4 linked regions of the Homo sapiens genome follow. The protein of the gene in region 1 interacts with the protein of each later gene in a pairwise test. Each region holds a gene or a part of one and is shown in the gene's direction. Other genes may lie near its edges.

Region 1 (3,500 bases):
CAGGGCCTGGTGTCTCTGCATGCACCAGGGCTTAGTGCCATGCTGGTACAAGCGTGGGGAGGATGCAGGAGGACTGGCATGGGATGGGGAGCACTGCCTGGGAAGCCCCTTCTTCCTGGGGCTACTGGGGTGCTAAGAAAGTACCCTAATAGCTCACACCACACTTTGCTTTCTCCTTCATCACATGCTAGGACGCTCTAGGGCAATTGAGCTGTTTTCCCCTTCACCCATCAAGAAGAGATATCGGCCTTTCCGCAGTCACAGTCTTTCCTAACTCAATTCAAACTCTGCTGTTGATAAGGAGGGCTGTAGCCAGCCCAGGCTGCCCGCTTCCCAGCCTCCCCTGCTCCGCCTTCCGCCCCCGAGGCTGTGCACCATGTGCAGTGTCTGGTCCCCAATAATGAGATTAGTCTTGGTTGCCTTTTAATAAAACGCAGTGGGCACCGGGAGGGAGAGCGATGCTTGGCTCAGTGAAGATCTGCGGGTCATGCTGTCCCTAATGCGCTGATTGCATTAAGTGGATTCTGGCTGCAGGTAGGGTGAGTGGGTGGGGACGAGGGTGACTCTCACAGCTCTAAGATCCAGAAACTGCCAGAGATCTGTCACCCTCATCCTGAGCTGTCACAGAGGAAGGCAAGTGACTGTGTGAGGGGCTACGTGAGCTCCCTCTGGTTGCAAGGTTCTGGTCTGCAGGGCAGTGGAGCCCTTGGGGGTGGGGAGTGGCAGCTTCCAGGCCTTGAAGCTGCTGCCCACAGTTCTGCTCTGAGAACACAGAGGGCCCAAGAACAGCCGGTGTCCCAGGGCTGCCCAGTGAGGAGGGAAGAGCGAGAGAGTATTCTTGCTGTCAAGACTGGGAAATGAGGGCCACGATTCAAAGCCTTGCTTCCTAGGGAGAAATCTCACCCAATGTCCAGGTTTGCAAATGCAGCAGACACATTTGTGGGTGGGTCAGATTCTGTCCAGAGATACCAGAATGTCTATCCCTGTACACCCCCACCTCTGGCATGGGACAGCCCTTCCCTGCACACAAATGGGTTATCAATTATGTCCAATGAATGGCCTCACGAGAGTCCTGTTGCGGAAGGGATCTTCCGCTTATCTCCTGTAAAGCACAGAGCCACGCTCAGAACCTACGGACTGTGGTCGCCTGCAGGCCAGCCATGGGCTTTCCTTTCATCCTTACACTTAGATTTTGAAGCCTCGCCTTTGAATCAGAAGCAGGCTGCTGTCATTCCAGAGGCCGCTGTTCATCTCTGGCTTCCTCCCAGATGCCCAGGTGCCCCGGGTGCCTGGGCTGCCTAGGCCAGGGCACCCGCCTTAGGAGCAAATGGAAATGCATCTTCCTCGGCTTGTTTGCCCTCCTGTAACCCCTTCCCTCTTGCCTTCGGTCAGGGCCTGCTGTCTTGCACGCACCAGTGCTTAGTGCCATGGTGGAACCGAGGCGGGGAGGACGCAGGAGGACTGGCACAGGAGGGGGGGCACCGCCCGGGAGCTTCCCCTGCGTCAAAGCAGCTTCCTCAGTGAGCTCCAACACAGACCCTTGCTGGCCTCAGTCTCTGGAAAGACTGACAGCACCACCCTAGTTCCTGGGCCTTGGAAAGGCCAAAGCCACGAGCAGGCAGCCACTGTTCGGCAGGAGAGCTAGAGATGCTATTGCCCACAGACATCAAAGCAGGGGTGCCGTCTTCCGTGTGCATGCTGGGACGGGTCTTGGAGGCCCAGATTAGCTCCTGGCTTGAACTTGTACCACCCTTACCTGAAAATTGGGTCTGTACCAAAGCTCATCTGCACGCCCCTTTAGGGCAGGGACCAGGCCCCCTCTGTGTGGCCCTAGCACCTGGCCAAGTGCAGGTGGCTGCGGGTTGAGTTGAGCTGCTATTTGCTGATGGGAATTTGGGGGCCTGTCGCTTGTCCTCTTTGAGCCTCCATTTCCTGGCCTGTCAAATTGGGGCAATGCTCCTGTTATCCACACAGTGTCATTTAAGGGTGACATTAGAGATGGCATGAAGTGCCCAGCACAGAGCAGGTGCTCACAGGCTGTTGGGTCCCCACCCTACTGACACACCAAGCACACGTCTGCCCTGCCATGGTGGGGAGCAAACAATGTTATGGTTCCGACTCCCCGGGAGGCCAGGCCGGGCATTTCACTGTAGGATGTTGAAGCCGCAGGCAGTCGTCGCTGCGAGAAGAGAGCCTGGCTCTGATGTCCACTGTCTTCCAGGGAGCCTGGTGGGAAGGAAGGAGTGGGCAGCGGCCCCTCGCTCTGCGGGCCTCTCCTGCCCTTTGTACTCCACGAGGTGTGAGGAAGTTGCCGGGTCACCCAGCAGAGGGAGAGGTGATGTCCCCTCTGTTCTTCCTAATTTGTAGCTAATCAGATTCTGCCTGCAGCCAGGCTCTCTGGGGATGAATCTAATAAAGGAGGCGGCGACCTGGAGAGGAGGACAGACAACAAGTGACCAGGGGGGACAGCACTTCTTTCAGTACATTTTCCTGTTAGACTCGGGGTATTAGAGACCCAAAGATACCCAAGGAGGAGTGAGAGCGTCCCTGCCTTCGAGGAGCAGACAGGGCACCGCGAGGGTAAGGAGGCTCCGGGAGAGCCTGGGGACAGAGTGATCTGCGCACCGCGGTGCCTGAGGAGTGGAGGCAGGGGTGTGGGCCCACAGCAGGGAGCCAGGCTGGGCCATGTCCTTGGATTCTGTGAGCCCAGGCGTCTCCTCTAGAGGGCCTAGCAGGAACAGTGGGGGCTGCAGATGGAAACGGGCAGGATCATGCCATGCAGTTGGCATTTCACTGGCACTCGGGGGCACTTACGCAGGGGACAGCATGATGTTGGGAGCTGGCTTTGTCCCTGGCATGTCTGTCACGTTGAAGAGGGAGAAGCTGCAGGCCCTGACTTGGGTGGGGCAGTGAGGATGCTCAGGAGGGAAGTGAGGGGAGGGGTGCCAGCATGCGGCGGCCTGGGCAGCCTTCTGTGGAGGAGCTGAGGTGTCACCTGGGCCCGGAAGAAGGGCAGCCCTGCTAGCTAGTGGGGAGGGCATGAGAGAACTTGGCGACGATGGGAGAGAAGGTGACTTGGGACGAGCTGGGTTTGAAGCGTCTGTGGGATGTCCAGGTAGAGATGAGTAGTGAACCGTCAGAAATGGGGCTTGAATTTGGGGTGGCGGGGACAGAACTGATACCCGTGTAGGTGACAGATAAGGACAGAGGCAGGAGTTCCAAAAATAGGATTTATTGTTGGCTGGGGCTTCTGGAATCCCGTATTCCCGTCCACCCTGGGAATGTGGATTGGAGCTATGTTTCTGGGAGATGATTTGATGGAATGTGTCAGAAGTCTAAAACAGAACCTAGCCCTTGTTTCAGGATTCCCTGCAGAGAAGTTTGCAGATGACCACATCCTGTTGTTTATTTGGTGGAAAACTGAAATCGAAAGCTAGCTAAATGCTGAACAATGGGAACTAGTTGGCTAAAAAATGGCCGTGCAATGCAAGAGTGTGAGG
Region 2 (3,500 bases), on another chromosome or scaffold:
TTCCCAACCACAACCCTCCTTAAGACCTTAAAGATACTTTAACCTAGCTTAGGCCTGACATGGACAGATTTCCTTTTCTGCTAGCACAGTCCAGATAAGATTAGTTTAAAAAAAAACAAACTATATTATGAATCCGTGGTAAAAAGAAAAAAAGTAGGGGTATGTTTATTGAATTGATGGAGAGACAGCTTAGCCTAAGGTGGTTGGAATCTGTCTACAAATTAGTTAAGCCTGACGTTGATCATTGGACATTCATCCCCGTTTGTCAGGCTTAAATTCAAGTGCTTTGGATGCTGAATCAAATTACTGTGGTAGAAAGAGGTTTAATTTTTTCCCTAAGAAAAATCTTATCTATGGATAAGTAGAAACCATTCTCTGACAACCTTGTAATAATTTTGACAGGGAATGTAACTACTGTGTTCTGCTTTTGGTTAAAGGCTAAAGTACATATTAGGAAAATTTGAGGCTGGGCGCAGTGGCTCACACCTGTAATCCCAGCACTTTGTGAGGCCGACGCAGGTGGATCACTTGAGGTCAGAATTTGAGACCAGCCTGGCCAACACAGTTAAGCCCCATCTCTACTAAAAATACAAAAATTAGCCAGGCATGGTGGCGGGCACCTGTAATCCCAGCTACTTGGCAGGATGAGGCAGGGGAATCGCTTGAACCTGGGAGGCAGAGGTTGCAGTGAGCCATTGCACTCCAGCCTGGGCAACAGAGTGAGACCCTGTTTCAAAACAAAACAAAACAAAACAAAAAAACAACAAAAAAAGGAGTATTTGAAATGTAAGTTTGTCCAACTTTAGTTTTCCAGTTAGTGAAGTGGTGGGCAACACACCTGCATTGTTTGCTCTTTTCAACTGAGTTTCTCTAATTGAGGAGTGATGTTTCTTGATGGTAGGACTCTTCATTCCTGCTATCTGGCATAATTCATGGGACACATTAGATATTCAGTAAATGTTTGGTAAACGAATGGAACTTACAAATTGTATTCTTTTTACAGTATGTGTTTTAGAAAGCATGGATCATATATTTATTGATCTGTCCTCCAAGTCACTAAAGAATAACTTTGAAGACTACATGAAATTTGGCAACCTATTAATGAAGTCTATTCATAATATTTCTATTAGGATCCTAGAGAGGCCAGACATAAAATAATACAGTCTACTTTTATTTTACTTTTTGAGACAGGATCTCTCTCATCACCCAGGTTGGACTGCAGTGGCACAATCATAGCTCACCATTGCCTTGAACTCCTGGGCCTGCTTCAGCCTCCCCAAAGCAAGTACTATAGGCGTGTGCCACCATGCCCAGCTGATTTTTAATTTTTTTTATAGAGACAGAGCCTCACCATGTTTCTAGGTTGGTCTTGAACTCCTGGCCTCAAGCAGTGTTGGGATTATGGGTATAAGCCATGGCACCCCATCCAATCTGCTTTTAAATACTAAAATGTGGGTATTTAGAACTGCAAGTTACAACTCACCCTCAAATTAATTCCCAGAATGGTTATTGTGTTGCAGTGTACTTCTGGAAAGACAACAGTTTTATAGTTAAATAATAAACGCTTAAGGGGATAGAGTAAGACATTTTCCTACTTTCTTACACTTAGGCTAAATGTTACAATTGTGATTTAATAATTAAGTAAAACATGGTAAAAAAAAAATTAAAGAGGGGTTTATAGTATAGATATCTCTTCAGGGATCCCAACTTTTTCATGCTACTGCTTTTAGGAGAGAAAAAAACTAGATGAATGGAAAAAAACACCAATTGGGATATGTCACACTGGGACTTCAGTTTGAAGACTCCACTGTAGTAAAAAGACTAATTTGCTTCTGGATATTTTTCTCTTTAAATGAATGGAGAGGCTGGGCGTGGTAGCTCATGCCTGTAATCCTAGTACTTTGGGAGGCTGAGGTGGACAGATCACTTCAGGCCAGGAGTTTGAGACCAGCCTGGCCAACATGGCGAAACCTCATCTCTACTGAAAATACAAAAATGAGCTGGGTGTTGTGGCGCATGCCTGTAATCCTAGCTACTCGCGAGGCTGAGGCATGAGAATTGCTTGAATCTGGGAGGTGGAGGTTGCAGTGAACTGAGATCGCACCACTACACTCGTCTGGGTGACACAGTGAGACCCTGTCTCTGAAGGAGAAAAATATTAAAGGGTAATGACACAGTAACACCTAGAGATTTCTCCTTTTTCCTCATGAAAAGAGGAAAAAGGGATAGTGAACTTAATGCATTAGATTTATTAGTTGGGTTAATTTTTATTGTCAGATCAGTTATCACCATGAATGGGAAGTCATATTTTGACTTCACACAGCAGTGAAAACTATCAGCTCCTGATTTACAAGCTTTGTAACAACTGGTTTTCTGTGGTATTTTTTTTTATATATATTACTCATTTTTTCCTTTTTGGAATGAGATAATATTGACCTAGATTAAGTGGGCAGGTAAGGATTAATTTAGTCTCTAAGATACAATATTTTTGGAAAAATGCCTGTGAGATTTTTATCAGATTTTTGAATTTTCACCAGTTGCCTCACCACTAGTGAGGAAGCCTTTAGTGACATTGTGCTTTGATGGCCTGACAGAGAAGAGTTATCACTTAATCTTAGATAGTGAACATGTTTTAATTTAATGTTTTAAAAAGTATGGGCCTTAGACAATAAGCAAATTGTCAAGCCCTATCCCACAGTCAGTGGTTCAGAATTTTGAGGGCAGAGCTCAGAAATCTGCATTTTTAACTAAACTTTCAACTTCTTATGCAAGCTAAAGTTTGAGAGCCACTGTGTATTTTATGAAAGGTTGAGTGACTGTTGACCTGAGTTCCTTCAGACTCAGGCCTGTGAAGTCCTTTCATCTGTTTTTGTAAAGCAAGAAGAGAATCCAATAAAATAGGCCATTAAGATTTACTTTCTGGTAAAAAGATTGAGAACAACATTAAAACCAATATTCCTTTAGCTTTAGGATTTATTTTAAATAATTTTTTTCTGATTATAAAAGTAGTATATGTCTACTGTGAATATTGAGAACATTTAGGAAATTATAAAATAATAATAACCAATAATACCATTTCTTAGAGGTGAGCATATTCTTAATTTGGCATCTTTTTCTGCATCCGTTTTTCAATCCCTTTTTCCTTCTCTTTATCTTCGTCTCTTTATCCTTATGTTTGTGTAAAACAACATTTGCAATTTTTATCCTACTTTTTTCTCCTTAACATGTAAGCATTTTACCACATTATTAAACTTTCTCCACAAACATAACTTTTAGTTGCTGCATTATATTCTGTTATATGAATATACTATAATTTACTTAACCATCACCATTTTATAGGATATTTAGATTGCTTTCAGTTATTTGAGTGGAAGAATGTCTTTCTGTTTAAAATTTTGCCTGGATTTCTGATTATTTTTCTCAAGACAGGTATATATTTAAATTTATTGAGGTTAAAAGGTATGCCTTCAGACTCTTGTTGAAATTGCCAAATCATTTTG
Region 3 (3,500 bases), on another chromosome or scaffold:
ATCTACTAAAAATACAAAAATGAGCTAGGCGTGGCGGCACGTGCCTGTAGTCCCAGCTACTCAGGAGGCTGAGGCAGGAGAATCGTTTGAACCCAGGAGGTGGAGGTTGCAGTGAGCCATGATCAGGCCCTGCACTCCCGCCTGGGTGACAGAGTGAGACTACAACTCAAAAACAACAACAAAACAACAACAACAACAAAACCCCAGCTTCTTCCAGGTCTATGGCAGGGTAAGCTCAAAATGAACCTGGAACATCTTGTGCCAGAAAGCAAGAAAATGTTCAAAGAATGACATGAGTATGTCAAAGGGCATAGGAGTTGACCTACAGGGATGTTCACATTGGCCGAATTTGGACCATCTGTGCATCTAAAAGAATAATCGCATTTATGGATTATAGCACAATGAATTAGAAGATCTGTGAGTCCAGAAAATATAGACAGAGGCAAAGGAGAGAGGAATGGGAAATGGAAGTTGTTCTGTGCAGAAAAATGATAACATAAATGCAGATAAATTATAGCATTATGAAAGCAGCACATTGGAACCACAGTGATTGCTGGTAATCAATGAATATGAGGATCATCAGTGGATGCTAAATCCATCAGTTGAAATGTTATTAAGAAACAGAATATGACACTGTCTCAAAGCATCACCTTGGCAGTTATTTACTAATTGCCAAGAGGAAAATGTACCTATCCAGGGAAGAGATCTGAAGGATACTCTTAACCAAGAGATCAAACTTAGCACCACCCTTAGCATGAAAGGCCCACAATGTACACCACACCCATTAAGTATTCTCGCTAAAATGTTTGAATTCAATTGTGAGAAAATAATCAGAAAAGCCCAGAATGTGAGACATCTACAAGACAACTGTCAGGGATTCTTAAAAACAGTTTAACACCCCAAAAAACAAAAAGGCAGAAAGACTAGTGTAAATTAAAGGAAACTAAAGAGATGTAGTCTTGTACATAAACCTTTATTGGATCCTGTACAAAAAAAATTTAAAAGTTACAAAATAATAGAATGTTTTTATTCTTAGGAGGTGTATGCTGAAATATTTAGGGGTGAAATATCATAATGTCTGCAACCTAATGGCTCAGTAACAAAAACACATAATAAATACATATTTGTATATATGTACAGGTGTACATATATACTTTGCATGAATATATACACACATACACACAGAGAAAGAGAGAAAGCACAAACAAATATGGTAAAATATTCATGTAGGTGATTCTAGATAAAGGATATGTAGGGGTTTATTGTGCTATACTTTCAACTTTTTTGTAGATTTGACATTTTTTAAGGTTGGGAGGAGGGAAGTCCCTTGCCCTGAAGGATAAAGTCCAGATTTCTTAACCTGGCATTCAAGGCCAGCTCTGGCCTGGATCTACCAAGCTGTACTCACTTTTTAAGCTACTCAAGGGCTGAATTGTGCCCTATCAACCTTGTTTTCCCAGCATTAGTACCATGTCAATCTGTCTTCAGAGCCTTTCTCCTCACTCATCTGAATAAACCCCTCTTAGATTAAACCTACTTTCTCACAACTCTGGTTGCACTGATCTGCCTGTGAATAACACCCATTCTCTCTACTCAAATGAAAACACCCCCCTCTCCATCAATCCTATCGTCACTTGAATATGAATATAAATTTCAATACTATACCTGACATTTTCCTTTATATTGTTGTAAAGATATTTTAATATCTTTATAAGAGGAAAGCAGAGGTCATAGCTTATAATTCTTAGAGAACCCACTCTACCTAGAAAATAACAGGTCTTCAATAGATAGTTATGGGTTGATTGATCACATCCTTCACTGCATTTTCATAAGAGGAGATCATTATTTTGATATCAAAATTCCACAAGGAAAGAATAAATTTAGTAAATTACCTAGTTACCTCTATGTGATGCCAAACTAAACGTTATTTAAAAGCTTATTTTTAAGATCAAATAGGTTTGGATTACTTTTTTTTTTATTTCTATGTGGGCATTTAGTATTGTATAGACTGCATGAGCTTGGGTGAATAGGGGAATGTAGCTATCTGATAATTTATCCACAATATCCCCTTGTCGCATTCTATGGTACTAACCTGCTTCTATGTTTTAATTTAGACACTGCTGTCAATTATCTTTTCTTCCCTCGGAATTGCTTTTTCTGGATACTGCCTGGTCATCTCTGCCTTGGGTCTTGTCCAAGGGCCATATTGCCGCACCCTTGATGGCTGGGAGTATGCTTTTGAAGGCACTGCTGGACGGTAAGGAATAATTCCCCAAACCAAGGAGGTCGGAAAATCAGAAACACCTTGCCTCATGCTCAAGCTCACGCTCATTTTCCATGATCACTTTGGGGTTCCATGTGGCTGTTTTAGTGCAGAATTTCCCTGTTAGTTTACTAATATCCAGACCAATTTGTTCTTGCACAGATCTTTGTTTAGATTTTTTTCTTCAGTCTTTTAATGCCATTTTCATTCAATGTCTTGAGGTTGTCATGGAGCTATCCAAATGAAAGGTGTGTTTCTCCCATACCTCAGATTAAAGTTGTGTGGTTACTATGGTCTGGTCTGGTAACAGCTGGAGCTTATGGACTGGGTGGATCCAGGAACTCAGTTTTGTTTTATGGCCAGGTTGGACATGTGGTCTGTTACAAGTGTAAAAGGGCTTGAGGAGGAGAGAAACCATGGTGCTCTTGGATGGTGCCACTCAGGGCTATAGTAGGAGGGATGATAAAGAGATAGAACAAGGCAGGATGAGCAGGAAAGTACAGTCTGAGGTCCAGGAACATGATTAGGTGCAGGAGTTTGTGGAATGAGCCAGAGCTTATGCAGCTTATACTGGAGAAGGGTCTAAAGAGGTAGCCTTGCTCAGAAGGCTAGTAATTCAGTCAGGAGTCTCACAACCCAATCCCGGATCTCAGAATGCCTCACACTGGCATTGTGCTGGGCTTATTGGGTTCCCAGCACCAGATGCAGATTAGGAGGTAGCAGGGCCCAGAAAGAAATACAGAAGAGGTCCAGAATTCTAATGGAGTAAAATGAGGGAATGTCTGTACCATTCACTGGGGGAAGTTAAATTTTCTTCTCAACTCTCCATGATTAGCTTTATTGTTCAAGGCCCATGTCCATCTGAGGTCTTACATGTGCATCTAGGCCTACATGGCAGAGCTGCTTCTGTGACTGTAGCTGCCTTCATTCTGAAGATTTTTACATGGTGCCATATACCATGACCTTTCTTAGCAAACATGACTCTCCCTCAGGTCTCTCCTACTTGCATATCCATTTATAGGCTCTCTGCAAGAAGAAAAATATGGCTCTTTTTGCCCAACCCCACAGGCAGTCAGACCTTATGGTTGTCTTCCCTTGTTCCCTAAAAATCTCTGTTATTCTGCTCTTTTTCAATGTGCACTGATTTCATATTGTTCAAACCACATGTTTTACAATCAATTTGTACAGTTAACACAATTATCACAGTGGTCCTGAGGTGGTGTACATCCTCAACTTA
Region 4 (3,500 bases), on another chromosome or scaffold:
TGATAAAATACTTGAGATTGGCCTGACAGTTCTAAGGTGTTTTTGTTAGTTTACCAATCTGAGGAATTTTGGAAACTTTTGCTGTCTGATAAGTTACTAATTTGTATCATATGTTAAAGTGCTTTGCTTTGAGTTTGGAATAATTGCAGAAATTCTAATTATCTGTACAAATTGTTACATACCTTGAATTGTTTTTAAAAATAATAATAGAGAATACTTGCTCTGTCATTAATTTTCCTTTGTGTTAAATATGTTAATAAAATATTTTTAAACAATATATGCAATAAAAATTAAAAGTTGTAAAGAATGTTTATGTCATTTCTAGAGTACAAGTGCAAATGTAAAATTATCTTGTTTCTCCTTGTAGTAATTAGTTTACTATATGAGGACATTTGCATGTCTTTTTAAAAACCTATATTTTGTCCTCATGTCTTTGTTTTGTTTTGTTTGCTTTTGTAAAGGCTTTATTGAAACATAACCTATATATCATATTGTCTTGTTTCTTCAAAGACTTGCAGGCTACGTTGAAGCATTGGCTTCCAGGTTAGGCCTGTCAATTCCTGATCTCACACCAAAGCAAGTTGACATGTGGCAAACACGTCTTAGTACACATTTGGTAAGTAATTTACATGGTTTATGATAATGAGTTGGGTAGCCAGAGCAAGATTCTGTATAGTTCAGGCCCTTGAGAAATTTGAGACTAAAATTGGTTTGAATGGAGTTTTTAACAAAAATTGTCTAGACGTTGGCAGTTTTCAGAAGAACAGTAATTTGTGTTATTAACTCCTTATTTTTTGTAGGTATACTTAATTTTTAAAAAATATTTTGTAATTCACTTAGTATTAGGGAGTATCTCTTATAGGTTGGGGTCTAAAGAACATAAAACGAATAATAAACTGTGGTTATCCTTGAGGAACTTGTTTAGGTGGAAAACCAAACATATAAACAAATTATAATTTGGTATGACATATGCAGTAATGAATTATGTACAAGATATAACCATGATACAGGTAAGGGAATTAACACTGTGGGGAGTAACTTCTTTTGGTGGGGAGATTTCTTGGTTATTATTAGATCTAAGCCGATTTTTGAATTATAGATGAGACATTTACTAGATGAATAAGAGGAGTTCCAAGCATACTGACTAGCAATTAGAAGAGGATGATAAAAAAAGGGTATATTTAGGTAAATACAAGAACCGACTTTAGGAATATAATATATAGTAGCTGTAGGTATAAGCAGCAGCAGGAGACAACATTGGAGAAGTAAGCAGGGATCAGACAGGAAAGCTATTGTATGTGAATGCTAAGGAGCTTGAGCCTCTTACCTAAGTGATGGAGAGCCAGGGGAGTTTTAAGTAAGAAGTAAACTGGATGGATCATGATGCCATCAATAAAATCAAGAAAAAAAGGAGGAGGAATAAGCTTGTAAGGGAAGATAATGAGTTCTATTTTGGACGCATTGAATTTGAGATACTAATAGGACATTTGAGTGGTGACACCTAGTAGGCATTTAGGTTAGAGTCAAGAGTTAGATAGGTCAGAGTTAGTGATAATGGGTATTGTCACTCCTTCATTCAACAAATACTTATTGTTTACGTATTATATGCCAAGTAGAGATACAGGAGTTTTGAATACATTGGTTAACAAAATAAGATCTTATTTCTGATAGATCTTACATTCAAGCAGTGAGGAGACAGACAATAAACAATCTGATAAATAAAAATATTTAGCATATTAGAAGTTTATATGTGTTATGAGAATAAAAAGGGAAAACAGAGCGAGGTAGAAGAGGCTAGGAGTGCTAGGATGGAAGCAGACTGCAATATTCAATAGGAGAGTCACTGTAGGCCTCACTGAAAAGGTAGATGATTGTTCAAACCATGGGAGAAGATGAGATTTCATAGGAGAGTGGTTCTCAAAATGTGGTGCCAGCATCAGCAGGATCAACATTACCTGGTAACTTCTTAGAAATGCAAACACTCAGTCTTCATCTTAGACCTATCTATTATTGTGTAAATTATTGCAGCTGGATGGGGTGGCTCATGCTTGTAATCCCAGCACTTTGGGAGGCCGAGGCGGGTGGATCACCTGAGGTCAGGAGTTTGAGACCAGTCTGATCAGCATGGTGAAACCCTGTCTCTATTGAAAATACAAAAATTAGCTGGGCGTGGTGGCAGGCGCCTGTAATCCCAGCTTACTCAGGAGGCAGAGGCAGGAGAATTGCTTGAACTTGGGAGGCAGAGGTTGCAGTGAGCCGAGATCAAGCCATTGCACTCCAGCCTGGGTGACAGAGTGAGACTCCATCTCAAAAAAAAAAAAAAAAAAAAAAACAAAAACATGCAAATTCAGCAGCTTAAAACAACATATATTTGTTATCTCTCATTTTCTGTGGGTCAGATCAGGAATAGCTTAAATGGGTCCTCTGGAAGGCTGCAATCATGTCCAGCTAGGACTTCGTTCCTGTCTAGAAGCTCAATTGGTGATGAATCCACTTCCAGGCTCACCCAGGTCTTTGGCAAAATTAATTTTTTTGTGGCTGTGAGGGACCTAACCTCTGGCTTGCTGTTGCACTCTCATGTCCTGGAGGCCTCCCTCCATCTAGAGCAAGCTTGTGCAACTCGCTTTTGGTAATCCAAAAGTTTACCACAAATTGGTAAACTTTCTTAAAACATTATGAGATTTTTTCTGTGATTTTTTTTAAGCTTATCAGCTATCGTTAGTGTTAGTGTATTTTATGTGTGGCCCAAGAAAATTCTTCTTCTTCCAATGTGGCCCAGGGAAGCCAAAAGATTGGACACCCCGATCTACGGGTCACCTGCAGTTCTTTGCCATGTGGCCCTCTCAGTAGACCCTCTCACAACATGGCAGCCTGCATCTTCAGAGCCAGCAAGGGAGAAAGGGAATGAGTCTGCTGGCAGGATGGCAAGATGGAGCCTTATGTAATGTAATATAATCACAGGAGTAACACCCCATCACCTTTCCTATTACTCAAAGCAAGTTAGAGCATCCTACCTATGCTCAAGGGGAGGAGATTATGCAAAGACTTAAATACCAGAAGGAAGGTATCATGGAGGCCGCCTTAAAATGTGCCTGCTACAGATTCACAAAATGAAAAGTTCTGGAGACGGAACCCAGCAATTTGTGTTTTAATTCTGTTGTACATTAAAATTTGAGAACTGTTGTTCCAGAGAAAATGTGCAGAATTAAAGAACCCTAGAAAATACCTAAGAGCTCATAGTCTTATGGGAGCTATCAAGGACGAAGTTTTAAGAAGTAATGAATGATAACCAATTCCTCTTGATATAAAGAAATCAAATAAAATTTCTGAAAATTTTTTTTTGTTTTTGGATTTGGTATGTAGTTGCTCATTGATAATCATTTCTGAGCAATTTCTATGGACTGATGGAAGAAGAAAAATCAAATGACAATGAATTGAAACACTAACGGGAGGTGAAGAAGAAGAATAAAATATAAAATTAATGTTAAGTTAGATGGAAT

Evidence for each region. Proteins that work in one complex are often made in the same cells at the same time.
Region 2: the proteins of CYB561 (region 1) and SEC22A interact in binary tests that used the Homo sapiens proteins (3 or more experiments, as listed by UniProt).
Region 3: the proteins of CYB561 (region 1) and TM4SF18 interact in binary tests that used the Homo sapiens proteins (3 or more experiments, as listed by UniProt).
Region 4: the proteins of CYB561 (region 1) and TMEM65 interact in binary tests that used the Homo sapiens proteins (3 or more experiments, as listed by UniProt).

What each region holds. Positions count from the first base shown.
Region 1 is NC_000017.11:63,439,807-63,443,306, reverse strand, and holds part of CYB561 (transmembrane ascorbate-dependent reductase CYB561), read left to right. Parts: intron 1-2,479; exon of another isoform or gene 2,480-2,580; intron 2,581-3,039; exon of another isoform or gene 3,040-3,107; coding exon of another isoform or gene 3,108-3,115; intron 3,116-3,500. UniProt on the Homo sapiens protein: Transmembrane reductase that uses ascorbate as an electron donor in the cytoplasm and transfers electrons across membranes to reduce monodehydro-L-ascorbate radical in the lumen of secretory vesicles.
Region 2 is NC_000003.12:123,204,943-123,208,442, forward strand, and holds part of SEC22A (vesicle-trafficking protein SEC22a), read left to right. Parts: intron 1-1,358; exon of another isoform or gene 1,359-2,165; intron 2,166-3,500. UniProt on the Homo sapiens protein: May be involved in vesicle transport between the ER and the Golgi complex.
Region 3 is NC_000003.12:149,323,637-149,327,136, reverse strand, and holds part of TM4SF18 (transmembrane 4 L6 family member 18), read left to right. Parts: intron 1-2,114; coding exon 2,115-2,257; intron 2,258-3,500.
Region 4 is NC_000008.11:124,317,202-124,320,701, reverse strand, and holds part of TMEM65 (transmembrane protein 65), read left to right. Parts: intron 1-510; coding exon 511-616; intron 617-3,500. UniProt on the Homo sapiens protein: Essential for maintaining proper cardiac intercalated disk (ICD) structure and function as well as cardiac conduction velocity in the heart.